Linked DNA regions of Homo sapiens: regions 1 and 3 are each linked to region 2. Evidence: fine-mapped expression QTL. A gene starts in region 2. Each other region holds a variant in brackets. All regions are shown on one strand. Distances are from middle to middle. Region 1 holds the start of NUDT17 (nudix hydrolase 17). Region 2 holds the start of POLR3C (RNA polymerase III subunit C). Region 3 holds the start of CD160 (CD160 molecule).

The links.
Region 1: its variant is fine-mapped to the expression of POLR3C in whole blood (TOPMed, PIP above 0.99).
Region 3: its variant is fine-mapped to the expression of POLR3C in whole blood (TOPMed, PIP 0.97).

Annotation. Positions count from the first base shown.
Region 1 is chr1:145,843,669-145,854,251 of GRCh38, reverse strand. It overlaps NUDT17 (nudix hydrolase 17), which reads right to left and starts at 8,622. Exons shown (of 8, transcript NM_001012758.3): 1 at 8,420-8,622; 2 at 8,056-8,239; 3 at 7,794-7,819; 4 at 7,562-7,654; 5 at 6,904-7,002; 6 at 6,533-6,669; 7 at 5,988-6,140; 8 at 5,298-5,875. The coding sequence starts at 8,611. The coding sequence ends at 5,773. PIAS3 (protein inhibitor of activated STAT 3) reads left to right here. Exons shown (of 14, transcript NM_006099.3): 8 at 366-439; 9 at 588-748; 10 at 3,099-3,232; 11 at 3,313-3,481; 12 at 3,666-3,799; 13 at 3,983-4,020; 14 at 4,540-5,730. The coding sequence ends at 4,806. It overlaps MIR6736 (microRNA 6736), which reads left to right and starts at 3,607; the gene lies at 3,607-3,665. It overlaps POLR3C (RNA polymerase III subunit C), which reads right to left. Exons shown (of 15, transcript NM_006468.8): 15 at 9,850-10,583. RefSeq lists enhancers at 3,372-4,571, 7,959-8,218, 8,269-8,638, 9,419-9,548. The variant T/G (reference allele first, on the strand shown) is at 5,017.
Region 2 is chr1:145,819,675-145,830,257 of GRCh38, reverse strand. It overlaps POLR3C (RNA polymerase III subunit C), which reads right to left and starts at 6,058. Exons shown (of 15, transcript NM_006468.8): 1 at 5,889-6,058; 2 at 4,335-4,501; 3 at 3,549-3,804; 4 at 3,253-3,438; 5 at 1,421-1,509. The coding sequence starts at 4,481. It overlaps RNF115 (ring finger protein 115), which reads left to right and starts at 6,163. Exons shown (of 9, transcript NM_014455.4): 1 at 6,163-6,486. The coding sequence starts at 6,385. RefSeq lists enhancers at 1,599-1,658, 5,798-6,197.
Region 3 is chr1:145,715,719-145,726,301 of GRCh38, reverse strand. It overlaps CD160 (CD160 molecule), which reads right to left and starts at 6,803. Exons shown (of 6, transcript NM_007053.4): 1 at 6,743-6,803; 2 at 1,396-1,501. The variant G/A (reference allele first, on the strand shown) is at 3,873.

The sequences.
Region 1 (10,583 bases), 24 kb before region 2:
CATGTATCTGCTTTGCACCTCACAGTCCCTAACTCCAGCCCTGCTAGAATATGGGCTCTCCGGACTGGAAAGAATCTTAGGGGTCCTCTAATCTAACCCTCACATGATGCTTCAACTCCTCCAGATCATCTCTAACATAGCCAGAGTGTCACGCTATGTTTAAGCATCTTCAGGGATGGGAAAATCCCCCACACCCAGCCTTCATCATCCATATCCCAGACCACTTCCATGTGACGTCCCACTGGCCCCCAAAGACGCTCCACCCAGCAGCCTCTCAGCCAGAGCCATCTGTTCCTGGCCTTACCAACTCCTGGGCTTCCTCCAGCCTTGCTGACCCCATGGCTCTGGCCTCACTTTTGTTTCAGTCAAGGAGAAATTGACTGCTGACCCTGACAGTGAGGTGGCCACTACAAGTCTCCGGGTGTCACTCATGTGCCCGGTGGGTAAAAGGGGAGAAGGGAACAGGGTGGGAAGGGAGTTGGGTTTAGCCTGTGGACTTTGATGAGGGTTCCTAGGGATACTGGCGTGAAGTTTTCTGGGATGAAATCAGAGTAGGGCCTCTGACAAGAGAACTTGCTTCTCCTCAGCTAGGGAAGATGCGCCTGACTGTCCCTTGTCGTGCCCTCACCTGCGCCCACCTGCAGAGCTTCGATGCTGCCCTTTATCTACAGATGAATGAGAAGAAGCCTACATGGACATGTCCTGTGTGTGACAAGAAGGCTCCCTATGAATCTCTTATCATTGATGGGTAGGGCCATTTTGCTTCCTCTTACCTAGGACATCCACTAGAACCTCTTTTCTTGGTTATTTCTTTTTCTTTTTCTTTTCTTTTTTTTTTTTTTGAGATGGAATCTTACTCTGTTCCCCAGGCTGGAGTGCAGTGGCACAATCTTGGCTCACTGCAACCTCCACCTCCCGGGTTCAGGCGATACTCCTGCCTCAGCCTCCTGAGTAGCTGGGATTACAGGCACCCACCACCATGCCTGGCTAATTTTTGTATTTTTAGTAAAGACTGGGTTTCACCATGTTGGCCAGGCTGGTCTTGAACTCCTGACCTCAGGTGATCTGCCCACTTCAGCCTCCTAAAGTGCTGGGATTACAGGCATGAGACAACATGCCCAGCCTATAATATTTCTTTTTTCTTTTAGCCACCACCTCCTTCAGGGTTTTTAATTCATATGGCTTACTTCCCCTCACATGAACTGCAATTCTCACCTTATCTATCCCTTTTACCAGTCTGTGTGTGTGTGTGTGTATGTGCATGTGTGTGGAGGGGGAGGGCAACATTAAGGACTTAGTATATACAAGGCATCTTGCTGAGCACTTTGCATGAGTTATCTCATTGAATCCTCACAATAACCCTATGGACTCGGCTCCTACCTGTAATTCCAACACTGGAAGGCTGAGATGGGAAGATCATTTGAGGCTAGGAGTTTGAGACCAGCCTGGGCAACATAGTAGACCCTCTCTCTATAAAAAATTAAAAAAATTAGCCAGGCATGTTATAATAGCTCATGACTGTAGTCTTAGCTGCTCAGGAGGCTGAGGCAGGAGGATGGCTTGAACCCAGGAGTTTGAGGCTGCAGTGAGCTATGATTGCATTACTGCACCCCAGCCTGGGCAACAGATTGAGACCCTGTCTCAAAAAAAGAAATAATCCTATGATTGGCTAGTGACACTCACCCAGAAAAAAAAAAAGAAAAAAAAAAACCCTATGAGATAGGTAGTATCATTACACATGAGGAAACTGAGGCCGAGAGAGATTGAGCCTTGCTCAAGGTTATATTGTTAAGTGGCAGAGCCAGTGTACTGAACTGTCATAATATATCACCTATAACAACTACCTGACTTCCCACTGAGCATTGCAATAAGGTTCTTTTCAGGGCCTGGATGTTCTAATCTTTTGATCTTGCTAGTCTTAACCTCTTTTTGGAATCTACATTATGGTTCCTGTTCCCAGTGCTCCCCCACTTTTTGTTTGTTTGTTTGTTTTTGAGACAGGGTCTCGTTCTGTTGCCCAGACTGGAGTATAGTAGCACAATCATAGCTCACTGCAGCCTCGACCTCCTGGCCTCAAGTGATCCTCCCACCTTGGCCTCCCAAAGTGCTAGGATTGCAGGCATGAGCTACCATGCCTGGCCCCTAGTGCCTTTATTTATTTATTTTTACACAAGTGTTTAGAAAGCCAAAGACCCAGTGCCTTTTGGAGATGGTTTATGGACTTCTGTGTCTCTGCTCCTTTTGTTCCTTATACTACACGTAAGTGCTCAGATTTTTTTTTTTTTTTTTTTTGAGACGGTGTTTCACTCTGTCACCCAGGCTGGAGTGGTATGGCACAGTCTCGTGATCTCAGCTCATGCAACCTCTGCCTCCTGGGTTCAAGCAATTCTCCTGCCTCAGCCTCCTGAGTAGCTGGGATTACAGGCATGTGCCGCCACATCCGGCTAATTTTGTATTTTTGGTAGAGATGGGGTTTCACCATGTTGGCCAGGCTGGTCTCGAACTCCTGACCTCAGGTGATCCACCCACCTCAGTCTCTGAAAGTGTGATTATAGGCGTGAGCCACCACGCCGGCTTTTTTTTTTTTTTTTTTTTTGAGGCAGAGCCTTGCTCTGTTTCCCAGGGTGGAGAACAGTGGTGTGGTCTAGGCTCACTGCAACCTCTGCCTCCTGGGTTCAAGCGATTCTCGTGCCTCAGCCTCCTAAGTAGCTGGGATTATAGGCATGTGCCACCACACCTGGCTAATTTTTGTATTTTTAGTAGAGATGAGGTTTCACCATGTTGGCCAGGCTGGTCTTGAACTCCCAGCCTCAAGTGATTCACCTGCCTGTACCTCCCAAAGTGCTGGGATTAAAGGCGTGAGCCACTGCACCCAGCCTCAGATTGTATTTATTTTAAAACCTATTACTTACTTTGCAAAGCTCTTTTACATACCTTGTGTTATTTGATTCCAACAACTCAGAGCGGTCCAGTAGGATGGATAATGTTCTTATTTTACAGATGAGGAAACTGAGATACAGGAAGGTGAGTTACAGAACTCTGGCTACTGTTCTGCTCATCTCCCAGCCCCGTGAATTTTCATCTCTCTCTTCCCCCAGTTTATTTATGGAGATTCTTAGTTCCTGTTCAGATTGTGATGAGATCCAATTCATGGAAGATGGATCCTGGTGCCCAATGAAACCCAAGAAGGAGGCATCTGAGGTTTGCCCCCCGCCAGGGTATGGGCTGGATGGTGAGTGACCCCCTGTTCCCCAGCTAAGCTAAATCTTGGATGGCCTCTTCTCTGAGACGTAGTCTTCTTAATACCCACAGGCCTCCAGTACAGCCCAGTCCAGGGGGGAGATCCATCAGAGAATAAGAAGAAGGTCGAAGTTATTGACTTGACAATAGAAAGCTCATCAGATGAGGAGGATCTGCCCCCTACCAAGAAGCACTGTTCTGTCACCTCAGCTGCCATCCCGGCCCTACCTGGAAGCAAAGGGTATGAGAAAATAGGCTGAGTCTACAGCAAAACGGACAGGGGAAGAAGTCAGGATTGCTTTCTGATCATTGGACAAAGCCTGGGGCAAGAGAAATGTGGAGGGGACAGAGAGGGAACCTGGGGACCTGAGCTGGGTGAGGGCATCTGTGGTTTGCTGGCTGCCTCAGCTCCTCTCTACCCACAGAGTCCTGACATCTGGCCACCAGCCATCCTCGGTGCTAAGGAGCCCTGCTATGGGCACGTTGGGTGGGGATTTCCTGTCCAGTCTCCCACTACATGAGTACCCACCTGCCTTCCCACTGGGAGCCGACATCCAAGGTATGACATGGGTCATAAGATGGACCCTGCACTGCCACACCCTCCCCAGAGCTACATCAGAACCCCTGTTCCTTCTCAAAGCCTCCTGCTTCTCCTGCAAGGGGCCACAGTCCACAGTGCTTTGTCTTTTGGTGGTAAAGGGGTCAGATAGGAGGTTAATTTTGATTTTTCTTTTCCTGCCAGGTTTAGATTTATTTTCATTTCTTCAGACAGAGAGTCAGGTAAGTGGTTCTTTCTTCAGAAGGTCTCAGATCTCTGAAGCTTCCTTTCTAGACACTGATGGGGCCCCTCCCTCTCTTATGATCTCTGGGGATGTAAATCTGCTTTCCCGTGAGGGCAGTGGGGTGTAGGTATCTTATTATCTCCTCAGCCCCACTGGTAGTTCCTGAGATTCCTACTTAGGCCTCCTTCCTAGATCCCCTGTTACTTTTCTGCCCTGGCCTACTCACCCCTACCCCCGTGTGCACTTAGAGCACCATGCCTGCTCTAACCGGACATTCCACACATTTCAGACGCCCACAAAGCCAAGAACCTAACAAGTTGGAGGAGCTCTCTCAAGGCAGGGAAAGGGGAAGGGTGTAGGGAAGTAGGGGAAAGAGGGAGAGGCTCTCCTGCTTCTCAAGAGAATACCTTCGGATCCACAGGGGTTGATTGCTCTCATACGGCATTTCTGAGATGAGTGACTGGGAGGTGGGGAAGTCGGGATTGAGATCTTAAACTATGCCCTTGATTCTTCCTAGCACTATGGCCCCTCTGTCATCACCTCACTAGATGAACAGGATGCCCTTGGCCACTTCTTCCAGTACCGAGGGACCCCTTCTCACTTTCTGGGCCCACTGGCCCCCACGCTGGGGAGCTCCCACTGCAGCGCCACTCCGGCGCCCCCTCCTGGCCGTGTCAGCAGCATTGTGGCCCCTGGGGGGGCCTTGAGGGAGGGGCATGGAGGACCCCTGCCCTCAGGTCCCTCTTTGACTGGCTGTCGGTCAGACATCATTTCCCTGGACTGAGTTCCCTGGATTATGGAAACTTCGCTGTCCCCCAACACTGAGCAAGTATGCTGTGGAGTCCCAACCCCAGCTACTCTGATCCCTCTGGGGGCTCTGGCCAAGGGCCAGACAGACCTTCACAGATGCCTACTTTTGGCCTCATCTCTGCCTGACAAGGCCAGCACCCAAAGGGTTAATATTTAACCTCTTTTTAAGGACACTGGGGTCTGT[T/G]TCTGGAAATGTTCTTTAGATGGTGGCACATTCCTTTGGGTATGTTAACCTAGGCAGTGGGAGGCAAATGGGATGGTATGTGAGCTAGGAGAAGGGCTGAACCCTCAGCCTTGACTATGTCTAGAGCCTCTTGGGGAAGGGGCACCTCTCTTGAACCCCAAATGCTCTCTCTTCTTATTACCCAAACCCATGGCTCTATTTCTTCTTCACATCCATTGTCTCTTCATGTCTATTCCATTCCCTTCGGCCAAACAGACAGGTGGAAAAACTGAGACAGGCAGTTTCAGAGATGGACAGAGAACTTTATTTTGGATTGTGGATGTGGACTTTTTTGTACATAAATAAGAAAAACCAAAATACTCCAAAGATGACTTCCCCTGCCTCCTACTCCAGTATGACAGAGGAGGATGTAAGGCCTTAGCCATGATCTGCAGGGGTCTGGGAGTCAGGCCCGGCCTATTGCTTGGGTCTCTCTCTATTTATATATCTAAGTTCACAGTGTTTCTTATTCCCCCCTAAGCTTCTAGAGGCTCATGGCCCTGTAGTTAGGCCTGGCTCATTCTGCACCTTTCCAGGGAGGTGGAAGGACCCTGTGCCCTCCTTCCCAATCTTCTTTTTCAGGCTCGCCAAGGCCTAGGACCTATGTTGTAATTTTACTTTTTATTTCTAAAGTTGTAGTGAAGCTCTCACCCATAATAAAGGTTGTGAATGTTCTGTGAGTGTCATGGAGATGGGCTAGGGAGGGGATTTTACACTTCACTTTCCAGACCCCTGGTTTGGGGGAAGAGGGTCCATGTTCCATTCTTCCTTTGCTGGCCCTGGGTCCAGGTAAGCTGCACTTTTACACGGTGGGGGTGTTCTGTGGAGGAATTCCAAGAGAGGTTGTCCTTTCCTGCTTTCCCCCGTGCCTGTAAAAACTAGACCATTCCAGCCCAGTACTGTGGAGCTCTCCAGTCCTTTTTCACTTTTACCTGCCCAGATGTTGCAGCCAGAGCTTGAGGGCAAACTTGGTTCCAGTGCTGACTCTCTCTTTGTCCTCTGCCATGGTTGGGATCATCCGCAGGAGGGTGGACATGTGCAGGACCAGAGGTCGGGCTCTTCCATCCTCCTCTAGTTCCACTGCACTGCATGGTGACAACTCCTGTTGGGGCTGTGCCTTGTAGCTTACAAAGAACTTACATATATGTTAGGTCCCCGAATCCTCCCAACTACCACAGGAGGTGGGTGGGTGTTGACCTCATTTGCAGAAAGGAAACAGGTTCAAGGAGGGTTAAATGACTTGCCCCTGTGTTAGAACTGACACTTAGACCTTCAATGCTAGCCAGTTAGAGCAAGAATCTTTGGGGTTTGATGGTCAGTGTCTTAGATTTCATGTACCTTCTTAATTATCAGCTGACCCACTCTCCTTAAATCTCCCCCACAACACAAAATTCCATCCTGAGGACAGGATAGACGCTGAACTTCTCAACATGAATATGTTGGTGTATTAGAGGCTGAGGGAGAAGCTCTTACTTACAGGACAGAGGGTGGTAGGTCCTGGGGGAGAAGTCCGGGTGTCTCTGTCCCATCCTCTGCGGCAGCCACTGCAGCAGCTACATCTGGTGTCAGCCACATAAGGGCGCTCACCTCATTTGGGTTTGGTTGGATCCGGGCCTGGGGTCAGACATGGTGACCCCTCAGTCATTGCCTCTCCCTGGGCTGCCTGTTCGTGATCAAAACCTACCCGCAGGTTTCATGGAGAAAGGCAGGAGCAAGGGGAAAGGGCATTGCATATTCTTCGTTATCTCTGACTACCCCCGCCACCCCCGCCCAGCTCCTAATCACAGTCAGAACCAGGTTGCTTGGGCTCCCCTGAGCCCTGTTTCCTTCCCTCACTGCCAGCCCTACCTGCAACTGCTGCTGTGATTCCTGGGAGATCACGAGTAGATACAGAACAATGTGATGGTATTTGGGTAAACCCCAGCTCAGCCTAGGAGGGTAGGCAGACTAGGAAAAGAAAACAGCAAAAGTGAGAACTTTCCGTCACTTTTTTTTTTTTTTTAAGATGGAGTTTCGCTCTTGTCGCCCAGGCTGGCATGCAATGGCGTGATCTTGGCTCACTGCAACCTCTGCCTCCTGGGTTCAAGCAATTCTCCAGCCTCAGCCTCCAGAGTAGCTGGGATTACAGGCGCCTGCCGCCACGCCCAGCTAAAATTTTTGTATTTTTAGTAGAGACGGGGTTTCGCCATGTTGTCCAGGCTGGTCTCAAACTTCTGACCTCAGGTGATCCGCCCACCTCAGCCTCCCAAAGTGTTGGGATTACAGGCGTGAGCCACCGCACCCGGCCCTTTGTGTCACTTTTTGAGACTTTGTTAATACAGCTTTAGGGTGAAACAAAATGGTGGCCAAAAGCTGAGGGCGTGGATGGTACAGATGACACAGCAGGGACATGGGTGAGGGTTATGGATTTGGGGATTCCAGCCCACTTATGTGCTATTGTTTCCCTTGTAGCCAAGGCAGGTAGGGGCTGATCTATGGAGGAGCTTCTCCCAGCTACTTGTCTCACCTCCCATAAACCCAGAGGGACCCAAGAGAACTGGCCCTGGGGCAGGTGTAGTCCACTCTCCTCCCAAAGTTCTCGAAGCCCTCCGTCCAGCAGCTGGGAGTCAGAGAAGACACATCAGAGGGGCCAGTGCCTGACTCTTCCAAGTCCTTTTGCTTGCCTCTCCCTCAGCCCACACCCAAGATGGTCCCAGGCATGGGTCTCTTGGCTCAGGTTGGATCAGCTGACTGGTTACCTCCTCCTCAAGTTCCACGTGCCCACCTGCAACAACAGTGGGGCCAGTAGGTGAATGGTGGTGGTCTTGGCCAGGGAGCCCCCACTCACTGTTGACACTCCTCTCCCCTCCAGTGGACACAGAGGGAGTTGCAGTCCCTTGTGACTATGAACATGCCACATTTTGGGGCCCACTTTATCCTTCTGAGACTGGGAAAAACATTGTTGCGGGGAAAGGGCAAATTTCTTCTCTGTACTTGGGGCCTTGTCCCCAGAATACTCACCCGGGGGTACCCAGAGGTTGGGGGAAACGCTCAGGGTGCGTGCCCTTCGGGTTAGCAAGACAGTCTTGTCGCTGGACTGCAGAATGACGGCCACACCCAGGTCCACACCTCGATCTGTGGGCAGCTCAGCCCCAGGGACCCTGGGCCGCTCCTCCAGGGCCGCAAAAGGGCAGAAAGGGGGTCGCTGGCAGAAGGAAGCCAGCTGGGTTAAGGCTTCAGAAGGGCGGCACTGGGTGGGCGTGACTTCCAAAAATGGGGCTACACCGCGCGTTGGGGGCGGGGTCCTCGCCGCCAGTTCCCACCCGATTTCAGTCCCCATCTTTGGCCCTTCACTGCCCCCGCTCTGGGGCCCCCTTCTGCCGACCTGGAGCGGAAGCCTAGCGGAGGCGCCTGGGAAGGGCCTGCTCGAGAGGACAAGCCGTCCTCGCTTCAAGCTGCAGTGAATGGGCCACGTCCCGAGCCCTGGTCCGGCTCCCAGGAGGCCACACACACTCCGTGCGAAGCTCACCGACTCCGGACGCCGGGACAGGAGCAGCTGCACCCGCACCTCGGCCATAACGCGACTCTGGAGTCGCTGCGGCCCGCCTGGCGCCCTCTGGTGGCCTAGAGAAGCTTCCCCTCGGAACGTTCCGCGGGGTCGTAGCGGGGTTTCCGAAAGTCCCCGGGGAAATAAGGGCACATCTTTTGAGGATGACCCATGGGTATAATATTAAACCACAAAGAAGAATACCTCTAAATGCTCAGCTCCTATTCCTTCCTATCTTCTCTGTTTAGGACAATGACCCCCAGACCGAATGACTTCAGGACCCACATGTTACTTCCAACCAGCCCTAAGCTGAACTGTAAGCATCCTCTACAGCACTATGCACACCTGTTACAGCAGGCATCACTTCGAATTAATTATCTCCAAGCGAAACACACCAAATAACATTTTCGATACCACTTCTCCTTTCACTTCACTCAAATGGCAACCAAGTATGCAGATGCTATCTCCTTAAACTTCCTCAAACCCATGTTCTCTCCAGCCTTCATTCATTGCCCTAGTTTAAGCCTTCCTCGTATTTTGCCTGAAATATTATTGCAAGTCTCCAAATAGTCTTGCCCCTACCAGTTCATTCTCTACAGTGCTGCCAGAGTGATGTTTTGTTTTGAGAGTCTCACTCTACAGCCCAGACAGGAGTGCACTGGTGTGATCCCAGCTCACTGCAACCTCCATCTCCCAGGTTGAAGCGATTCTCGTGCTTTAGCTTCCGAAGTAGTAGCTGGGATTACAGGGCGCCCACCACCACGCGCGGCCTTTTTTTTTTTTTGAGACGGAGTCTCGCTCTGTCACCCAGGCTGGAGTGCAGTGGCGCCATCTCAGCTCACTGCAACCTCCACCTCCCTGGTTCAAGCGCTTCTCCCGTCTCAGCCTCCTGAGTAGCTGTGATTACAGATGTGCACTACCCACACCTGGCTAATTTTTAAATTTTTTTGTAACGATGAAATCTCACTGTTGCCCAGGCTGTTCTTGAACTCCTGGCTTCAACTGATCCTCCCAGTGTGTTGGGATTACAGGATTTAGGCACCATCAAAATTATCTTCTAGCTGTTTTGAAATGTACAGTAAATTAATAACTATGCCACCCTGATCTATCCAACACCAGTCTTACTTCTTCAAACTGTATTATCTGTGCCCACTAATCAACCTCTCTTCATCCTCCCCATCCTTCCTAGCCTCTGGTAACTACCAATCTATTCTTTATTTTCTTGAGATCCACTTTTTTAGCTCCTATGTGAGACAGAACATGCAATATTTGTTTCTGTGCTTGGTTTATTTTACTTAACATAATGACCTCCAATTCCATCCATGTTGCTGCCAATGACAGGATTTCATTCATTCTTATGGCTGAATAATACATTTTCTTTAGCCTTTCATCTATTGATGGGCACTTAGGTTGATTCCATGTTTTGGCTATCGTGAATACTGCTGCAATAAACATGGGAGTGCAGGTATCTTTTTGATACATTGATTTCTTTCCTTTTGGAGATATATATATACCCAGTAGTGGAACTGCTGGAGCATAGTTCTGTTTTTAGTTTTTTGAGGAACCTCTGTAGTCTTCCACAGTGGCTGTACCAATTTACATTCCCAACAGTGTACCAGGCAGGGCTCTCCTTTTTCCACATCCTCACTAGCATTCATTCTTTCTTCTTGATAAAAGTAATGAATTGGGGTGAGATGTTATCTCATTGATTTTGATTTCCATTTCTCTGATTAGTGATGTTGAACATTTTTTGATGTATCTGTCGGCCATTTGTGTATCTTCTTTCGAAAACTACCTATTAAGATCTTTTGGCCATTTTTAAGTTGGATTGTTCTTTTTGCTATTGTTTGAGCTCCTTATATATTCTGGTTACGAATCCCTTGTTAAGATAGTTTGCAAATAAAGCATCCTCATCTTTCAAACTATACATTGTCACTCTCTGTGTTCCCTTCCCTGCCTGACCCTTTTCCCTTTCTGGCCTCTCTGTACATAGTGTTTACTC
Region 2 (10,583 bases):
AATTTTGTTTTGCATCATTCTTCCCATTTCTTAGAGTAGTGCTTTTTTTTTTTTTAAACTGTTTTGGGTCACAGTTCCTTTGAAGAATGTAATGAAAGGTACGGAGAGCTTCACTGAAAAATGCACGTAAGTATAACTGGACTCTCTGAAATCCATCCATGGAGTAGAACAAGTTAGGAACTGCTGTGCTATAATAATCTTTCTAAAATATAAATCCAGTCACTTCATTTCCCTGCTTAAAATCCATCAATGGCTCTCCTTTGCCTTCAGGATAAAGCCCAAACCTCTTAGACAAACATGTACACAAATAATAAATAATTCCAGTTATAAATATAAATGCTGTGAAGTATATGAAATGAGAAATGTGGTAGGAACTAGTGTAGGAGTGGGCAATGGTGCTTGAAGTCTATGAAAACAGCATTTAAGATAGAAATGATAAAAACAGAGACCACTACATGAAGATCTGGGGACAAACATTTGAAGCCGGAGCCAAAGTCTAAAGACCAGAAAGAGTTTGACATGTTTAAGAGATAAAGTCAGTAGAGGGAACACAGTGAGTAAGATGGAGACGGGGCAGAGGTGAGGTTGAAGAGCCCTGTCTCCAGCAGATCATACGAAGACCTAGATCACGTAAGGCTTCCTAGCCCGTACCTTGGATTTCTTCTAAAAGTAAAGGAAAGCTATTAAAGGAGTCTAATCAGTGGATGTGTTGTTTTGTTTTGAACAACTTAGAAAGTCATTTTGGCTACTAAGTAGGTAAGAATGCAGCTAGGGAGACCATTAACGAAAGCGTTTGCAAAGAGTTGAGAGATGGCAGTGAAAAGATGAGAAATGGTTGGATTTGAGGTAATTTTGGAAACTGGGCTGATATGTTTTACTGTGAGATTAGAGGGTTCCAAGGATTTTGGCTTAAGCAGAAATGGTGGTGTCCTAGGCGGCTGGCCTACGTGGTAGTGTCTTTTACTAAGATGAGGAAGTTTATGAGGGAGCAAGATATTTGGGAGGAGGAATCAATTATTCTGTTTTGGCCACACTAAATTTGAGATGCTTACTGACATCTTTATAGGTACGCTAAGAAGGCATTTGAATATGAGTTCAGGCCTATGTATAGTTTTTAGACCCATTTTTCATCACTGGCCCCTGTAGGTCTTTAGGTTCTCGCCATATTGAGCAACCTAAACTTTTTCTAGGCCCCTTTTTACATAAGCTGTTACCTCTGTTCAATGAAAGAATTAAGTTAAGGCTCAGAAGGGAGACAGTAATGGTTCATTCTTTGTTAGTCTATTCCTAATATTTAATGAGGTTCATAATCCTACTGCTTCTTAGCTCAGGAAGCTTTAAGCTCTCTTGGGGCTTGTTATCTGAGTGCTCTTTCTGGCCTGCTTCAGGGTGAGGACTTCTAATCAAGAAGCCCCATTACCTCCTTGTTATCTGTAGTATATTTTGGTCTCTTGGCCTTGGGCTCCCCAGCAGCATCTTCATCAGATGATCTCCTCCTTTTACCTTTCCCTGCCAAACAAACAATTAAACACTTAGACTATATCTCATATGATGACAGGAAATGACCAAACATGAGAGCAGGTGTCTTTCATTCCAAAGACATCTGTAGCTGCCTCTAGATCAGAGTTGCTTAGGGGGCTGAAGAGCTATAAGAAACTCAAGTAACTGATGAAATAATCTGAAACTCAACATGTTCAAAAAGAGTCTTATAGTCTTTCTCCTCCAATGCTCTCTTTCATGGCCAGTGATATCATCCTCCCACATGTGCAAGTCAGACACACAGATGTCACTCTTAGTACTTGTTTCCTTCACCCTCTCTCTTTCATTTTCCACCAGTCTGTCAACATTTACCTTTGCCCCATTCTCCCATCCTTTCTGTAGACAAAAAATCTTTTGAAAGTGCAAATTAGATCATGTCATTTCCTTAAAAATCCTTCAGTGGTCTTCCTTTGCTCTTAGCATAAAGAACAGATGCTCTATAAGGTCTTACTTGATTCAGCCCCTGCCTGTCTCCCATCCAAGTACTAAGCAGGTTGATCCTGATTAGCTTCTGAGATCAGACCCCTGCCTAGCTATGTCTCTAACCTTACCTCATGCCTCTCTTGCTTTGCTTACAATGCTTTAGCTATACTGACATTCTTTCATTTCCTCAAATGCTATTTTTTTACTACATACTATTCCCTCTGCCAAAAATGCTTTTCCTGTTACCTCACTGTTAGCTTCTACTTCAAATCTTAGCTCAAATGCCACCTTCTCAAAGAAACATGAGGCCTAAACTCCCAGATGAATCCCGTCTCTCGTTATATATTTTCTTTTCTTTTTTTTTTCCCGAGACAGAGTCTCACTCTGTCACCCAGGCTGGAGTACAGTGGTGCAATCTTGGCTCACTGCAATCGCTGTCTCCTGGGTTCAAGCAATTCTCCTGCCCCAGCCTCCCGAGTAGCTGGGATTACAGGCGTATGCCACCATACCTGGCTATTTTTTTTTTTTTTTTTTTTTGAGACGGAGTCTGGCTCTGTTGCCCAGGCTGGAGTGCAGTGGCACGATCTCGGCTCACTGCAACCTCCGCTTCCCGGGTTCATGCTATTTTCCTGCCTCAGCCTCCCAAGTAGCTGGGACTACAGATGCCCGCCACCACACCCAGCTAATTTTTTGTATTTTTAGTATAGACGGGGTTTCCCGGTATTAGCCAGGATGGTCTCGATCTCCTGACCTCGTGATCCGCCCACCTTGGCCTCCCAAAGTGCTGGGATTACAGGCGTGAACCACCATGCCCGGCTACCTGGCTAATTTTTATAATTTTAGTAGAGATGGGGTTTCAACATGTTGCCCAGGCTGGTCTCGAACTCCTGGCCTCATGCAATTCGCCTGCCTCAGTCTCCCAAAGTCTCCATTATATATTTTCATAACACCTCATACTTTTCCTTCATGGCACTTATTACAGTTTAATTATATACTGATGTGATTTTCTGATTAATGCATGTCTCATAATACTATGACAGTTCCTTCATAGGAATATTTCCTTCATAGTACTTATCACCGTTTAATGATATATCGATGTGATTTTCCGATTAATGTATGTCTCCTATACTAAAGCCCCATGGCAGAGACCATGATTTTTTCATTGTTATACACCACGATGTCTGGCACATAGCAAATACTTGGTAAATACAATCACATTTCATACACTTGACAATCAAGAAGAATCCACAATTAAGGCAAGTCACAGTTCCAGGGGTTAAAATTCCTTACCTATCAAGCTGAGTTTAGGAACCAGGTACATGTCCTTTTCATTAATGACAAGTGTGGGGGCAGGTGGTGGTGGCCCAGGGTCTGAATTCTCAGTGGTAGGTACCGAAGGGCAGCGTTGTACAAAGTGTGTGTCTGCCAGTCGCACAAATGTGTTTGATACTTCAGCATAGTCCATGGTCTTGCCATCTGTATAACAGGAGGAAAAAGGCAGATGAGATGGCCTAAGATAGCTCAGGGTTCACTCCCATAGCCAGCTGATCTATGCTTTTGTTAACAGCTATGGATACCATACTGACCCTCCATGGTCTCTGTGAGCCGGTCTGCCACTTTCTTCACAACAGCTGACATTGTCAGTTTGCCGTTCAACAGAAGCTCCTCAACAATCAGCTCTCCAGTGTCACTGTACAGAGTTTTGGTAGTATAGATGTACCGGGGATATCTAAGCATTCGCAATACCCGGCTGCACTGGGCTTCATACTCCACCACACCACGTTTGTGCACTTGATAACTCACCAGGTTATGTTGGACGAGGACACACAGGGCTTTCTTCACCTAAATGGAACATAAAGAGAAGAAAGAGAGGAAAGACCTGAAGATATAGCTCATTACTGCTGGCAATTTTTTGTCCAACAGCTTAGTAAGCATCAGAAAATGGCTAGATAATTTCTGCACTTATTTCCTCTCTCCACTGGAGGAGCTAATAAGAATCACACATCAATACAATAAATCAGGAAGATTCCTTGCTATATTTCCTCTGATCCTTATCTCTCAAAACACAATTTACTTTCATCATTCTCATTCCTTAAAGGCAGTACTGAGATTAATAGACTTATTGTGAATAAATGAGGTACGGCATGGGAAGAGCAAAGATTTGCCTAAAAGCTGTGATGAACTAGGAACACTTTGAGAAACAAAATGTTGATGTCTAAGTCTCATCCTTTTCTCCCCGAAATAACATTGTTCTGCTCCAAGGGCAGGCTTTCTTCATTTTTCCTTTTCTGGGGTGAGAAGAACAATATTCAAAGGTGGGTGAAATAAATTAGTGAAAGAAATGAGAGAAAATGAATGTCATTTAGACATACCTGATCCAGTGATGTTCCTGTGTCATGGGCAATTACTCTTAGTGGCTGGCTGCCGGTTCTTATCAGATGGACTCCAATTTTTTCTACAATCTCTCCAAAATGCTCTTGCAGCAACAAAGAACAGAGCTTAATTTCTGCTTGAGTCATTGTACTGGGGAGTCTGAGAGCTAGGGAAAAAACACCAAAATGGTACAATAGAAAGTCTTTCACGCTGGAAGCAGAGCTGCTGAGTGTAAATTCATGTATTCTTTCTGGAGGGCAATTTGACAATACATATCAAAAAGCCTTAAAAATCTTGCATATCTTTGAAACAACAATTTCTTTTTGGATATTGTGTCCAAAGAAAGAAAAAGCTAATAATAATGAAGTCATTAGTTCTCTTTATAATACCGACTTAGTGGAAACAATCTAACGTCTAACAATAAATGATGCCATACCCATACAATGGCATACTACACCAACATTTAAAGTTATTTAGTACGATGCGTATTCATGTAGAAAATTATTCATAATAGGCTGGCGCGGTGGCTCAGGCCTGTAATCCTAGCACTTTGGGAGACCGAGGTGGGCGTATCATGAGGTCAGGAGTTTGAGACCAGCCTGGCCAATATAGTGAAACCCCTTCTCTACTAAAAACACACAAAAAAATTAGCTGGGCGTGGTGGCGGGTGCCTGTAATCCCAGCTACTAGGGAGGCTGAGACAGGAGAATCGCTTGAAGCCGGGAGGCAGAGGTTGCAGTGAGCCGAGATCGCGCCACTGCACTCCAACCCGGGCGACAGTGCGAGATTCTGTCTCCAAAACAAAAAAAAACAAAAAAAATTACTCATAATATATTAAGTGACAGAAGCAAGCTGAAAAAATATAAAAATTCAATTATTGTAAAAAAAAAGGAAAAATGTATGCATAGGAAAAGACTATGCATCAAATTTATCTCTATGGGATTATGCGTGATTCTGATTTTCCTTAAAGATTGGGAGATGATTTTGCGGTCTGTCACAGACCTTAGTTTCTACACTTCACTGCTTGGAAGAATTAAGGTCACTGTTCACAGCTCGGTGGGAGTGAACAGGCAGTGTTATTCTCAGTCCATAAAGGAAATGATAATTTCGAAAAAGAAATTTAGGAGGTAAAGGACTGCTTCTCAACAGGGTGTGTCAAACAGGAGATGAGGTTACGTTGTTTGCAGGACAGTATTCAATTCTTAAACTTCTACTCCTTGACAAAGTTGACACAATCAGAAACGGACGTAGTTAATTTTATGATTACTTCCTTATTACAAATTGCTACCAAACATTGTTTACTTATTTCTTCCAATTCCTAAGAAGCCAAGTCTTTGCCTCCCCGTCCCCACCCCGCCTCAGTATCACCAGAGACCTATTTCGTCCATCCACATATCTTTGGAGAAGCATTCCCAGATCCTTTGCCATCCTCGGAAAGGGCTTCCAAGGCGCTTGGCTCCTAGCTCTACACTTCCTTTACACAGGTTCCCGTTTCGGACGTGGTCTCTTGGTCCAGTCAGTGCCGCCACGTTCAGACAGCATTTTCCACTAACCTCAGGGTCAGCGCAATCCGGGGGCTCCAACTCCAATTCGGCTGAGCTTCCCGCGACGGCTTCCTACGGCTCCCGCTGGCCTTCTAGGCCGAGGTGGAGCCCACCGCCCTTTCTAGGACGCGGATCGCCACCGAAGAAGACGCGGAAAAGCAAAAAGCGCGTGCCACTCTACCCCAGAGTTTCGGCGGCTTCCGGGGACGCTCTTTCTTTCTTCTCGCTGGAAGACTGGAGGACCAGCGAGGGGCTGTTTGTGGAGCCGGCGGGCGGGCCGTTTGTCTCTCCTTCCTGCGCCTCTTTGGTGCTGGGAGGCGGGCCGCAGGGTAGCTGTTGGCGCCGCCGCGTTTCTGGGCCTGGCCAACTCACGTGACCGACGCGGGCTCTGAAGCGGTGGGCCGCACCGAGGCGGCGGCGGCGGCGACGACTGCAGCTCGGGAGGTAGCGGCCTGGCGAGGGACGGGCCGGCTGCCCTCTCGGACGGCCGCGGCGGAGGGCAAAAATGGCGGAGGCTTCGGCGGCCGGGGCGGACTCGGGCGCCGCTGTAGCCGCCCACCGGTTTTTCTGCCACTTTTGCAAGGGCGAGGTCAGCCCCAAACTACCGGTAAGAGCGCTGTGTTCTCTATACTTGGGAACCTCATAGATTCCTGGCCCCGATTTCCCGGAACTGGGTCTGGAGCTTTCTGCACATCATTGACTCGCCCGACATCGGTCTGCCGAATACCTGCTGCCCACTTCTAAGCCGCCGGCCCTAAACCCTGGGCATCACGGCCTCGGCCCCGTACCTCCTGCCCACCTCTTAATTCATCCTGGGCTGCTCCACCTGACCTCACCTCTTTACCTCCCGTGTCCTTAATTTTTTTTTTTCTTAGCAAGTTTCCCTCTGATAACTCTCCCCTCAATTTTCTTGCATTCTTTTATACCTGGTCTTTTTCCTACGATGACCTCCCCCCACACTTCTTCCACTGTGTCTTCTCACCTTCCTCTGTGTTCTTTTCCACTTTTCACCCCCCACCGCCCCCGCCACCTCCCTTGTCAGTGAAGCGAAATAGCGGATTGCTGAGGATTGTCACTCTTCGGTTTTTTCTAGGGAAGGAAGCACAGAAAGGGGGTTGGAAGGTATCTGTGGGGCGAAAAGGGGGATTTTGCTCTTCAGTGGTTTCCAGGGTCCTTGTGACAGTGAAGACAGCAGCGTACTAATGACTTGCAGACGGTCTGCACTCCTATCACTGTTGAAGGAAATGGCTTTAGGAAGAAGGCAGGACGTACTGTTTCAACTTCGTTTATTTTGGTTGTCATGCTGCCAGTGTCTTTAATATCATTGTTCCGCCCCCCGCCCTGTCCCTTTCTTCACCTAAGAAAAAGAGCCGGGACAGAATGTTGGGGATGCTTCCTCTGACGTGAAATTGGTTTTCACGAGTTTCTGCCAGAGTGTTAGCCCCTTGAGAGGCAGTGCTGTGGTTGGGAAGAAAACACTTTTGTAGGTCAGGCGCGGTGGCTTAGGTCTGTAATCCCAGTGCTTTGGGAGGACGAGGCAGGAGGATTGCTTGAGGCCAGGAGTTTGAGACCAGCCTGGGCAACAGAGTGAGACCCCTCTCTACAAAAACAAACAACATTTATGCAGCATACTAGCCAGCACCAGCATCACAAACCCAGAAACTGTTTTGGGTTGGGTTGTAGCTACTACGAGGAGCTCCCCCAGAGTGAATGTCAATCCTGTCCTTGGCCAACTGTCTTTATGGTTGTTCCTTTCCTTACAAGTGTCCAGGTTCAGTCTTGTGATAGAGTGGCAACATAATGTATGTTTCTATTTATGGTGTCTCAGATACAGTGTAGGAGAAAACCTTCTGAAGTGAGTCTGTATATCTTATTTCTTAGAAACACAAATGGAGTCCAGTGAATAAGTGCTTAAAGGGTGTTTTATAGTCTTCTCTCACTCAAAAGTTTTGTTTAAGGCATTATGATACATTCTTTCCTCTCTACTTGCCGCACCCCCTACTTCAGAGTCATAGTTTCATCTAAATGCTACTTAGCTGTTTTTCTTTTTTCTTTTTTTTTTTTTGAGACAGCCTCTGTCTATCACCCAGGAGCATGATTTCGGCTGACTGCAACCTCCACCTGCCGGGTTCAAGAGAGTCTCCTGCCTCGGCCTCCGGGTAGCTGGGACTATAGGTGCACGACCACCGCACCCTGGCTAATTTTTGTGTTTTTAGTAGAGATGCAGTTTCACCATGTTGGCCAGGCTGGTCTCGAACTCTTGACCTCAAGTGATCCACCCGACTCGGGCTCCCAGAGTGCTGGGATTACAGGCGTGAGCCACTGCTCCCCGCCTAAATGCTACTTAGCTTTGTTTGCTGATTTTGCTGTGTGTTTATGTTTTTTTTTTTGGCCATATTTCAGTGCTGGGAAGAGCAGGTGTCTAGTTTTTTTCCAGCCAACATCAGAGCCTGCAGAACTCTTCTACCATAGAGAGGGAGTCTGGAATTCAGCCAGTATGTGTGTGACCAGTGGTGTGTTGTTGAATGTGATGCCTTGTTGAATATTCCATCCTTAGCTTTTTTGATCTTTAAGTTGCTGTTCACTATTTTGCCTTTAAGAGTGAGAAGTTGGCCAGGCGTGGTGGCTCAGGCCTGTAATCCCAATACTTTGGGAGTCCAAGGCAGGCAGATCGCTTGAGCTCAGGAGTTCGAGACTAGCCTGGGCAACATGGAGAAACCCCGTCTCTACCAAAAAATAAAAAAATTTGCCGTGTGTGTGGTGGCATGCACCTGTAGTCCCAGCTATTCAGGAGGCTGAGGTAGGAGGATTGCCTGACCCCAGGAAGCAGAGGTTGCAGTGAGCTGAGATCGCACCATTGCACTCCAGCCTGGGCAATAGAGCCAGACCCTGTCTCAAAAAAAAAAAAAAAAAAAAAAAAAGAGTGAGAAGACAGTCTAAACTTCCCCAATTGATTATATCTTTTCTTCTCACCTTTAAGTCCTTACTTCAAAGGGATAATTTGAAAAGCTGAATAGGTGTTTTTCTAAGCCTTAGTTAATGCCTGGAGAAGTTTCTTGATCTTTTTGGTGTGATATATTATTTGTCATATCTGATTTGTAAATTGAGGCCTAACACAATTGAGTATAACCGGATTCTTCCTAAATATATCCAAGGTTCTCTGCTGAGTGTCCTGGAGGTGATAGGGAGTGATATGTGGCTCCTGCCCTTAAGGATCTTACAGCTTTTGGGGAAAGACAAGGCAAACATAGAAAAAGTAACAGCATAAAGGGAATGAGGATATGTGCTTTAGGATTCAGAGAGGGGAATTTCATAGCATTGGTGTGGCCAGTGGGATTTAAATTGAGTTTTGAGGGATGGGTACATTTCAGATTGAGAATTCCAAAGACTGTGAGGTAGCAAAAGGAAGAGGGAGTTGATGAAGAAGGGAGAAATATTTAATAAATCATGTTTTTTTCACAACTAAAAGTTGTATACTATATTTTTTATAGTGTTCAGCATGATTTGATATATGTATACACTGAATGGTTAAATCAAGCTATTTAACATGCATTACCTCACATACTTATTTTTGCGTGGTGAGAACACTTAAAATCTGTCTTAGCAATTTTCAAATATACAGTATATTCCCTTTTTCTTTTTTTGAGACTGAGTCTCGCTCTGTCACCAGGCTGGAGTGCAGTGGTGCGATCTCGGTTCACTACAACCTCCACCTCCTGGGTTCAAGCAGTTCTCCTGCCTCGGCCTCCCAAGTAGTGGGGACTACAGGCACGTGCCACCATGCCCAGCTAATTTTTGTATTTTTAGTAGAGACGGGGTTTCACCATGTTGGCCAGGATGGTCTCCATCTCGACCTTGTGATATGCCCACCTTGGCCTCCCAAAGTGGTGGGATTACAGGTGTGAGCCACTGCACCCGGCCTCTTTTTTTCTTTTTAAATAGAGACAGAATTTATTCTGTCTTGTTGCCCAGGCTGTTCTTGAATTTGTGGGCTCAATGTGTCCTCCCACTATATCCTCCTGAGTAGTAGTAGATAGGTGTGTTCCACCATGCCTGGCTAATTTTTTTTTCTTTTTTGTAGAGATGGGATTTTGCCATGTTGCCCCGGCTGGTCTCAAATTTCTGGGCTTAAGCAATCTGCCTGCCTCAGCCTCCCAAAGTGCTGGGGTTACAGGCATGAGCTATTGCGGCTGGCCTGATATGTGGTATTTGTTTTTAATTCTGTTTATGTGATGAATCACATTTATTGATTTGCCTATGTTGAACTAACCTTGCATCCCAGGAGTAAAGACTACTTGATTGTGGTAGATTAGCTTTTAATTTTTATTTATTTATTTTTTTGAGATGGAGTCTTGCTCTTTAGCCCAGGCTGGAGTGCAGTGGAACGAGCTCAGCTCACTGCAACCTCTGCCTCCTGGGTTCAAGCGATTCTCGTGCCTCAGCCTCCCAGATACCTGGGATTACAGGTTTGCACCACTAGACCTGGCTAATTTTTGTATTTTTGGTAGAGATGGGGTTTCCCCGTGTTGGCCGGGTTGGCTTTGAAATCCTGACCTCAAGTGATCTGCCTGCCTTGGCCCCCCAAAGTGCTGAGATTACAGGTGTGAGCCACCACACTGGCCTGCATTAGCTTTTTAATGTGCTGCTGGTTCAGTTTGTTAGTATTTTATTTAGAATTTTTGTGTCTGTGTTCATTAGGGATAT
Region 3 (10,583 bases), 100 kb after region 2:
TAGTACCACAATAAACATACTTGTGCATCTTTATCGTAGAATGATTTATAATCCTTTGGGTATATGCCCAGTAATGAGATTGCTGGGTCAAATGGTATTTCTAGTTCTAGATCCTTGAGGAATCCCCACACTGTCTTCCACAGTGGTTGAACTAATTTACACTCCCATCAACAGTGTAAAAGCATTCCTATTTCTCCACATCTTCTCCAGCATCTGTTGTTTCCACTCGTTGTATCTTTTAACTTATTTTTTCAGTCTCTTTATATCATTCATTATATCTTTTAATTTTTCATTATTGTTCATATATGAAAGGCTATTTGTTTTACTAGATATTAATTTCATACCCAGCTCCCCTCCCTTAATTCTATCATTTTTCAGTTGATTCTCTTGGATTTTCCAGTTATGCAATCATATTATGTGTACATAATGATAATTACTTCCTTTTCTATTTTATATCTCTGATTTCTTTCTTCTAATTGTGTTGGTTAATATCTCCAGAAAAATATTAAATAATAATGGTAATAATGAATCTCTGTCTTTTTTCTAAGTTTAATGGGGGATGCTTAAATGTTTCCTTATTAAGTATTATAGTAGCTTTGAGAATGAGATGTATTTTATTATGTTAAGGAATATACATTTATTTCTATTTTATTAAGAGTTTTAAAATGTCAAGGATGGATGTGAATGTTTTATTAATTGCCTTTAAATATCAACTAAAATGATATTATTTTTCTTTAAGATATATTAAGATGGCGATCTACATTAATAGATTTCCTAAAATTGATACATCTTTGCAGTCCCAGACAAACAAACAAAAACTGAAGCCATTTGGTCATAGTATGTTGTTATTTTCTTTTGAGACAGAGTCTCACTCTGTCGCCCAGGCTGGAGTGCAGTGGCACGATCTTGGCTTACTGCAACTTCCACCTCCTGGGTTCAAGCGATTCTCCTGCCTCAGCCTGCCGAGTATCTGGGATTACAGGCGCCTGCCGAGTATCTGGGATTACAGGCGCCTGCCACTGCGCTCGGCTAATTTTTGTATTTTTAGTAGAGACGGGGTTTCACCATCTTGGCCAGGGTGATCTTGAACTCCTAACCTTGTGATCCACCCACCTTGGCCTCCCAAAGTGCTGGGATTACAGGCGTGAACCACCACGCCCGGCCTAGTATGTTATTCTTTTCATGTGCTGCTGTATTCTGTTTTATAATATTATATTTAAATTTTTAAAAATTGAAAGGCCCAGTTGCGGTGGCTCACGCCTGTAATCCCAAGCCTTTGGGAGGCCGAGGTGGGAGGATCACTTGAGCCCAGGAGTTTGAGACCAGCCTGGGCAGCAAAGTGAGACCATGTCTTTACAAAAAATACAAAAATTAGCCACGTGTGGTGGTGCGTACCTGAAGTCCCAGCTACTCAAGAGACTTAGGTGGGAGGAGCCCGGGAGTTCACGGATGTAGTGAGGTATGATCTTCACTGCACTCTGGCCTGGTTGACAGTGAGACCCTGTCTCAAGAAAACCAAAATCAAAAATTACACACACACACAAATTAACCAATCATACAAGATATTAAAAATATAATACACCATGACAAATGGAATAAGGTTTCATTTTTAGAAATTCTTGGATGATTTAATATTAGGAAATCTATTAATTAACATACTACTGGATAAAAAAGAAAGTCAATATTACCTTCTGATAACATCTTACATTAATTCCCACTAAAATCCTAAGTAAAATGGTAATGGATGAATACTATTCAATATAATGGAGAAATGTATATCTCAGATAAAATTGCAGCATCATATTTAATGGTAAAATATGGGATAATTTCTATTAATATTAGGAGCAAGGCAGAGATGCTTCCTATTATTTCTGTTATTTCACATTGTTCTGAAAGTGTTTGCCATTATATTTAGACAAGAAAATAAAGCAAAGGGTATAAATATTGGAAATCTTAAGGCAAATTTATTACTATTTATATGTGATATAACTTACATCTAGAAAACCCAAGAAACTTAATTGAGAATTATTAGAAACAATAAAAGAGTATCTGAATAGGCAGTTCACAAAAGACGAAATGCAATAAAAAGTTTTTCAGTTTTACAAGTATTCAGGGAAGTACAAATTAAAAATTCAGAGTTCAGAATTTCAGAATTACCACCTGTTAAGTGAACAAAAATTTAAAAGATAAATCAAATTTTGGTAAGGGTAAGAAGAAATATGTGCAATCATTCACTCTAGGTAGAACTATACATTGTTACGGAGCTTTGGGGGAATACTCATTATATATTAACATTTCAAATGCACATACCCTGTCCCTTTGGCTATAGCTTACAGAAATAAAAGCATGAGTGTGCTAGTATAGATGTACAAGGATATTCACTGCAGCATTTTTTATAATACCAAAAAAATAGAAACAGGTGAAGGCCAGGTGTGGTGGCTCACACCTGTAATCCCAGCACTTTGGGAGGCGTGCGGATCACCTGAGGTCAGGAGTTCGAGACCAGCCTGGCCCACATGGTGAAACCCTGGCTCTACTAAAAATGCAAAAATTAGCTGGGTGTTGTAGCAGGTGCCTGTGATCCCACCTACTCAGGAGGCTGAGGCAGGATAATTGCTTGAACCTGGGAGGCAGAGATTGCAGTGAGCCAAGATCACGCCACTGCACTCCAGCCTGGGCAACAGAGCAAAACTTTGTCGCCTTCCTGCCCCCATAAAAAAAGGAAACAGGTGAAGACCCACTGGTGAGAATGGTTGAATAAATTATTGCAGATCCACAGAATAGAATGTTATGTAATTATAGTTTGTATAAAACAATAAACTAAATTAGTGTATATACATACAATTTAATAAGGTACTTATTAATACATAAGATTAAAAATTTTCCTGGATATAATTATTAGTCAGAAAATATGGTAGAAGGAAAAGTTCCATTCATTATAGCAACCAAAAAACCCATCAAATGTCCAGAAAAATGTAACAACATTCCGAATAGGACCTATAGGATACAAACTATACAGTACTATTAAGGAACATAAAAGAAAATCTAAGTAGAGACGATTGTTAAATTCTTCTGTACTTATCTATACATTTGTCACAATCCTAATAAAACATCCCAGCAGCAGCTCATGGTATGGCCCCAATGTCCTTTCCTAGCCTTGACCTCTCCTTGTTCCTTCTCCTGTGTTATCATACCTTCATGCTACACCAGAATGTCCTGGTGACTCTTGAAACATGGAATATTAAGTGACAAAGAGGATAAATGAATAAAATGACAAATCATTTTATTCAAAGAGGAAGACAAAGAAGGATTGCAATTATTCATTCAGCCCAGAATTATGGTTAAAAAGCGTAGACTCTAGAGCCAGAGTGTTTGTGTTCAAATCCTGGTCCTAAAACTTAATAGTGGCGCCGGGCGCGGTGTCTCACGCCTGTAATCCCAGCACTTTGGGAGGCCGAGGTGGGCAGATCACGAGGTCAGGAGATCGAGACCATCCTGGCTAACACGGTGAAACCCCATCTCTACTAAAAAAAATACAAAAAATTAGCCGGGCGTGGTGGCGGGCGCCTGTAGTCCCAGCTACTCGGGAGGCTGAGGCAGGAGAATGGCGTGAGCCCGAGAGGCGGAGCTTGCAGTGAGCTGAGATCGCGCTACTGCACTCCAGCCTGGGCGACAGAGCAAGATTCTGTCTCGAAAAAACAAAAATAAAAACAAAAAAAACTTAATAGTTGCATGACTCGGTCAAGTTTCTTAGGCTCCTGGGCCAGGCGCTATGCTCAGCCTTTAATAAATAGACATATTTCAGAAACACGGAGCATCTATAATGTGTCAGACACCATGGGGCACAGAGAGATCACTAACACAGCAGAGGC[G/A]GACGTTTTAGTGGTTAAATGGTCTCTAGAGTCAGACCAGGATGTTTCAGATCTGGCTTTGAAACTTAACTATCTGTGTAATATTGGGCAAGTTTCTTAATCTCTTAATGACCTATAAAATGGTGACAAAATATTCTCTTCCTTGGGTTGTGAGGGTCAAATGAGGTCACCTATGTAAATTACTTAGCACAGTGCCTGGCAGAGAGTAAGGGCTCAATAAATGATAGCTATGATTAGTTTTATGCTTTCTTATATTGGAATCAATGGACAGTGTTCCAGGCACATCTACCTGCAAGACTGTGTTTAGTCCTTATAAAACACTAAGCCATTATTATTTTCTAAAATTTATTATTTGTACGAAGCATATAGAGGCTTGGAGGGGACTTGTGACTTGCTTAAAATCACAGCTCCTAAGTTGGGGAGCAGGACTCTAACCCAAGTTATGAGAGTCTTTCTCTTGGAGTCCCCTTTGTCCCTCTCCTCACAGCCGCTCATCCATTCACGAACAGCTGTTAACACAAGAACGACTGTACTAAGTAATAAGGTCATAAAGTGTCAAGGGGCAGCACAGGAGAAATTCTGGATGAGGGATGTGGAAAGGCTGCAAGATGGCAATGAAGTTAGGCCTTCATAGTTGTTTGTGGGCTCTCGGGAGCTGGTGACTAAAGAATACGGTGGGTGAATTAAGGTGGGGAATGGGCTGAGGAGATCTGGCTTCCAGTCCTGGCTCCGCACTAGGTAGCTGTGGAATGTTGACAAGGTCGTGTCCCTTCTCTAGGCGTGTTTCCTAAGGGACTGGTGCAGCGGGATGGGAGGGGCGCAGGGTAGGGACCGCTTCCAAGGAGAGAGAGGACAGGCGGGAGGGGCTGATGCAGCTGGTCACTCCGCTGGAGTGGCCAGACTTCGCGGTGCCTAGGGCCGAGTTGAAGAAGAGCATGTAAGTCTGTTGTGGGCCCCTCACCAGCGCTGGGGGGCAGCGAGGTCACTGGGCAAGGATGCTCTGGGAAGTGACCTTGGTGCCCGGGAGGGGAGCACCCTGTTGTGATGCAGGCGGGGCAGCGCGGAGCCGGCGGCGCTGATTTCGCACTCTGGCCGCTAGAGGGCGCTGCCTTTCAGCCAAAGCCGAGTGACCCCCTACCTGCCCCGCGTTGGCCCGCGTCACTCCAGCCATGGGCCATCCAGCGAGCATGGGGGCTAGCCAGGGAAAGTCTAAACTAGGAGGGGAGATGAGGGGGTGCAAAGTTGGGCCTGGTGGGTCCTGGGGACGCAGCATGTACTAGAGCGGCACCTGGCCCTCAACAGAGGGGAGAGCGGGTGGTCGTGAGAAGTCTGGGAATTTTCCGGGCCCACTACACGCCAGGGGCGGGTCTCCCCTCTTAAAACGTTGTGAGCCCCAGCGCGGGCAGGGGGGAGGGTGCCCGTGGAGTTGGCATCCTCATCTTTGATGGTCCCCGGGGCTCCTGAGCTGCGCTGGTGGCCCCAGGGCTCGGTGCCTCTCTCAGGCGACAGCTCACAGACGGCGGGAAACTCTTCCCTCCCGCACCTTCGGAGGCGGTCCTGGAGTCTTGTGGACTCCTGGGTTCAAATCCAAGCTTTGTGTGACCAGCACATTGCTGGACCTCACTCAGCCTCACATTCCTCTTGTGTTTAAAACTACCTCATAGGAATGTGGTGACGGTTAGATGACACATAAAGCTTTGCCAGAGGTTTTCTGGGGAGGGTGGGGACAAGAGGGCAAGGAAGAGTCTCCATTTCCTCTGCCACCGGAGCCCGGATCTAACCTCTCAGAGGAGCTGGAAGGTCAGCTCTGAGCTCCACAAATACCTCTGTATACAGATCTCCCACGACACTGAAAAAGATGCCCAGAAAGATCTCATTTGCAGCTGTGAAGGGGCTTCTTTTTCAATCTCCACAACCCCAACTGCCTTAAAGTAGAACCAGACTTGTTAGTAGACAGAGGTTTGGGCTGGGGGGCCCTTGAAGCTCTTGTCTGAGATCTCAGGCTTCCTGCTCAACACACCAAAGCAGGTGCCTGACATAAAGGCGCCATGGACCTCTTTGGTGGTCTGGGAAGGCATATGGAGTCCCTTCTCAGAACAACATTTAAAAATTAATAAGATACATGGGATAATAAAGGGAACAAATTATGACAAGACAGTTGTCAAAACATTAGAAGAATGTGTGGTAGAGCAGTACACATGCTTCTTTAGATTTGACATCAGCCTAATAACTGTTGTAATTCTGTAGTAGTGCTGAGCGTTAAGGACATTTGGAGAAATCTATAAAAACTGTAATGAGATTTGAAAATATTTGTGTTTTCTATTGATGGCAAATTCTATTGTGGTTCATTGTCTACATTCATAACTGAAGCAAGTGCTGACTTTCAATTAAAGATTAGTGAAAATAAAGATGTATTTTTCCCCCCAATTCACAAATCCCATGAATAAATCTATTCACGGACCTCCAAGAGGTCCATGACGTGAACCACCTAGGACATGAACTTCCCCCGGAGGTGCCTCACAGGGCCAGCTCCAAGCCCCGTGGCACCTCCCGGCTTGTCTCAGGCCAATCCTTGAAGAGCTCCAGCAGATCTAAACTTTGGTAACTTTCCTCTGGTAATTTGAGGAATTCCTCCATTTGAGGAATGTCAGAATGGGGCCAGGATTCCTGAATGCCCATGGAAGAAAAGCGAGCATGCTGGTCTGGCGGGCAGAAATAACCTTCTCCCCAGGCTCCAGAGGGCAGAGGACATTTCCCTCCAAAAGGCAAGTTTCTCAGGGACCTCATGAGAAGCCTGTCCTCACCTGAGCAGTTCTGTCAACCATCCCATCCCTTCACCTGGACCCCAGGTCCCCAGCAGGCCTTTTTACCTCGAGACAGAAGTTCTTCTTTCTTGTTCTCAGACTGGGGGCTCACGTTGAAATGGCTCTCAGTCCTCAGATTGTCCTTGCATCTTGTTAAAACCCTATCTCTCCAGTTTCGTCATTGCTCACACTTTCATAGCTGTTATTATATTCGCTCTTTGAAAACCACAGAATGGGTTGTTAGAAGTCATAGATCTTCCGCCACCCCCACTGTGGATTTTTTTCTCCTTTCTCTCCTGCAACTGGTCCTCCATCTCCTTCTCCTTTCCTCTCCCTTGTTTTGTCTTTTTGGTGTTAGAAATAGACTAGGGTGCTGAGGGGGCTAAGAAAAACCACTTCTTAAAATTCTTTTCTTTACCCTGGGGAACAAAGATTTTGTATTTGCTAATTCATAATAAGGAAAGGACTGATGATAGAATAACTAGAAGATAAAAGGACAGAATGTCCTCTCAAGTATAAAGAAAGGTACCAAGTCTTCTCCTGAGAGTAGGTTTTGGTTAGAAGTAGGACAGAGAACACAGCTGCTCCAGGCTGAAAGGGAAGAAGGTCAGGGAGCTGTCAAGAAGGCTTGGGTGAGGGTGGTGGTGAGCAGGGGAGGCAACGAGTGGGGGCACCAAAATGGTCCTGATGTGGTGGGGGGAGGATGAATGACTGACCTTATCTTCCCACCCACCCATTTTTTTTCTTTTTCTTTTTTCTTTCTTTCCTTTTTTTTTTTTTTTTTTTGAGACAGGGTCTTGCTCTGTCACCAAGGCTGGAGTGCAGTGGGGCAATCATGGCTCACTGCAACCTTGACCTCCTGGGGTCGAGTGATCTTCCCACCTCAGCCCCTCAAGCAGCTAGGACCACAGGTGTACGCCACCACACCTGGATAACTTTTTATTTATTTATTATTTATTTATTTATTTATTTATTTATTTATTTATTTATTTAGAGATGGAGTTTCGCTGTGTCACACAGGCTGGAGTACAGTGGCGTGATCTCAGCTCACTGTAACCTCTGCCTCCTGGGCTCAAGTGATGCTCCTGCCTCAACCTTCTGAGTAGCTGGGATTACGAGAGCCTGCCACCATGCTGGACTAATTCTTGTATTTTTAGTAGAGACAGTTTCATCATGTTGGCCAGGCTGGTCTCAAACTCCTGACCTCAAGTGATCTGCCTGCCTTGGCCTCCCAAAGTGCTGGGATTACAGGCGTGAGCCACCACGCTCGGTTGATAATTTTAAAAATGATTTGTATGGATGAGGTCTCCCTATGCTGCCCCGCCTGCTCTTGAACTCCTGGGCTCAAACAATCCTCTGGCCTTGGCCTCCCAAAGTGCTGGGATTACAGGCCTGAACCACCACTCCCAGCTTCCCATCCATTTCTATTCTGTTCTGTTCTTCCTTGGTCAGTGATGGCTTGGGAGATTACAATTGTTCCTAAATTCTAGGGTTGTGCCCTTAGATGGCAGGAACATTAGTCTGAGAATTAGAAGCATTGGGCTCTAAGTCCTGCAAGGCTGGGCCAGGCCCTGTGCCAAAGGGCACAGCACACCAGGAAGCCCCACGGTTCTGGAGGAACACCTGTCATGATTGCCACCCAGTGCCAGGCTACCCAGGAATTCAAGGGTGGAGGGAGGGTGGGGGAAAATTTTTCATAACTAGTCTAGAGACTCTCTTTTCCTTCTTATTCCTGTTATTGTAGTACTCTGTGGTCCTAAAAACAGTAGGGTGCTCTGGGGTTTGAGAACTCCCAGATGGCTCCACTGAAGCCATCGTCAAATGAGACAGATATTAGAAATATTTCTTCACTCCAAGCCAGGCGCAGTGGCTCACACCTGTAATCCCAGCACTTTGGGAGGCCGAGGCAGGTGGATCACGAGGTCAGGAGATTGAGACCATCCTGGCTAACACAGTGAAACCTGTCTCTACTAAAAATACAAAAATTAGTTGGGCCTGGTGGTGGGTGCCTGTAGTCCCAGCTACTGGGGAGGCTGAGGCAGGAGAATGGTGTGACCCCCCGGGAGGCGGAGCTTGCAGTGAACCGTGATTGCGCCACTGCACTCCAGCCTGGATGCCAGAGTGAGACTGTGTCTCTAAAAAAAAAAAAAAAAGAAAAAAGAAAAGAAATACTTCTTCACTCCATCAAAGTGTTAGCTTTCACTGCAGAATGAGTCCATTCTGGGAGCCTGGGGGTTGGGAACCCATGTTGGGAAGAGGAGTGTCTCACCATCATCCTGGTCACAGGACCAGTCCACCACAGCCCACAGGATACTGGGTCCCACTGGCATAAACTGCTAAACTGGGCCTGGTCTCTGCTCTCCCAGTATCCTTATTTGCTGTCTCTATGATAGTGTTCAAACAGATGACCTCTCTGCTCTCTAAAATGGAGACTTCTCCCTCCTTGGGTCTATGAGAACCTTTCAAAGGTTGGCTCTGAGAGCACTCAGCATTCCTTATCATCCAGGAGCTGTAAAACAGTGATTATTAGCAACATGAAGAGAAGTTAAAGGCAACCAGAGTTGTGGGTGAGTGAGGTTGGGGCCACTTAAGTACTAGCTGACACACATGTATTCATACTGGTTATTGCAAAAAACCTCAAAGTTCTGCAAAGACCTCAGGGCTCAAAAGTGAATCGCAGCGCGCTTCCTTTTCACCAGCCATGTAGTGTCTGTCCATCCTGCAAACGGTTGCATGCACAGTTTTCTGCAAATGTTGCTTTTGGTCGCTTCTCACAAGGTTATTGTGTGCCAGGCCCTGCGGGGTTGACGATGACTGAATGGGGCCTGCTGTCAAGGCGAGCACACTGCTGAGAGAGGCCTGCATTCCCGTGAGATGAAGCAGAAGCAGAATGCACCAAGAGCTCTAAGTACCCCAGAAGTGAGAGAGAACCCAGGAAGCAGGGGAGGTTGGGAGGAAGAAAAGGAGACTGCCCTGTGGGCGCAGACAGTGTTAGGCACTCTGTGTGGACAATGTGACATTTAAATTGAGCTTTGAAAGAAGGCAGGATTTCAAAAGGCAGGGGTAGAGGAACAGTATGAACCAGCAAGGAGCAGGGACATATGGGGCTGGTTTGGAAGTCAGTGAAGCAATGAGGTGGCTGAAATATAGGCTGCCTCCTGGTCATCCACAGCCTCCCAAATATGTATCCTGTGGGCCTTTCAATGTCTAAGGTGTATGAGTCCAGTTACACAATTTAGCAACTGATAGATTGTTTTCAAGATACTAATAGTAAGTGCTCGACATTAAGACAAAGAAAAACTGAGTGGACATTGAATTGTATTTCCATCTTACTTCTGTAGAATTATGGGGTTTTGGAAGCAGAAGAGACTGCAGCAGTCTTCCAGTCCCTGGAAGTGTGCAGACACTTGCATGCCAGTGTTTCCCAAACTTGAGCGTGTATTAACATCACCAGCAGGGCATCTTTGAACAATTCGGATGGCTGGGCCCAGCTGCAGAGTTTCTAATTCAGGGACTCAGGGCAGGGGTGGGGGTGGTCCAAGAAGTTGTATTCCTAACAAGTTCCCTGGTGCTATTGTTGCTGTAATGCTCCTTGCGAACTGTTCAGGGTAATACCTCTTGCATCCTCTGCTTGAATCTGTCTACTGTTCTGCAGCTCACTACCACCCAAAGTATCCACACAATATCCCTTGTGGAATACTTCCAGTAAAATTCTTCCTTGTGCTGCTGTCAGTCCTGCCTGCCTTTAACTTTCAATGAAGTCTGCTGAGGGCCCCACATGGGAAATGTCTATGGATGGCAGGCAAGTCTCAGGCACATGAGGCAGACTGCCTGGATTTACGTCCTGACTCCACTTACTACGTGACCTTGGATAAGTCATTCAACCTTTCTGTGTTTTCCTCAACTG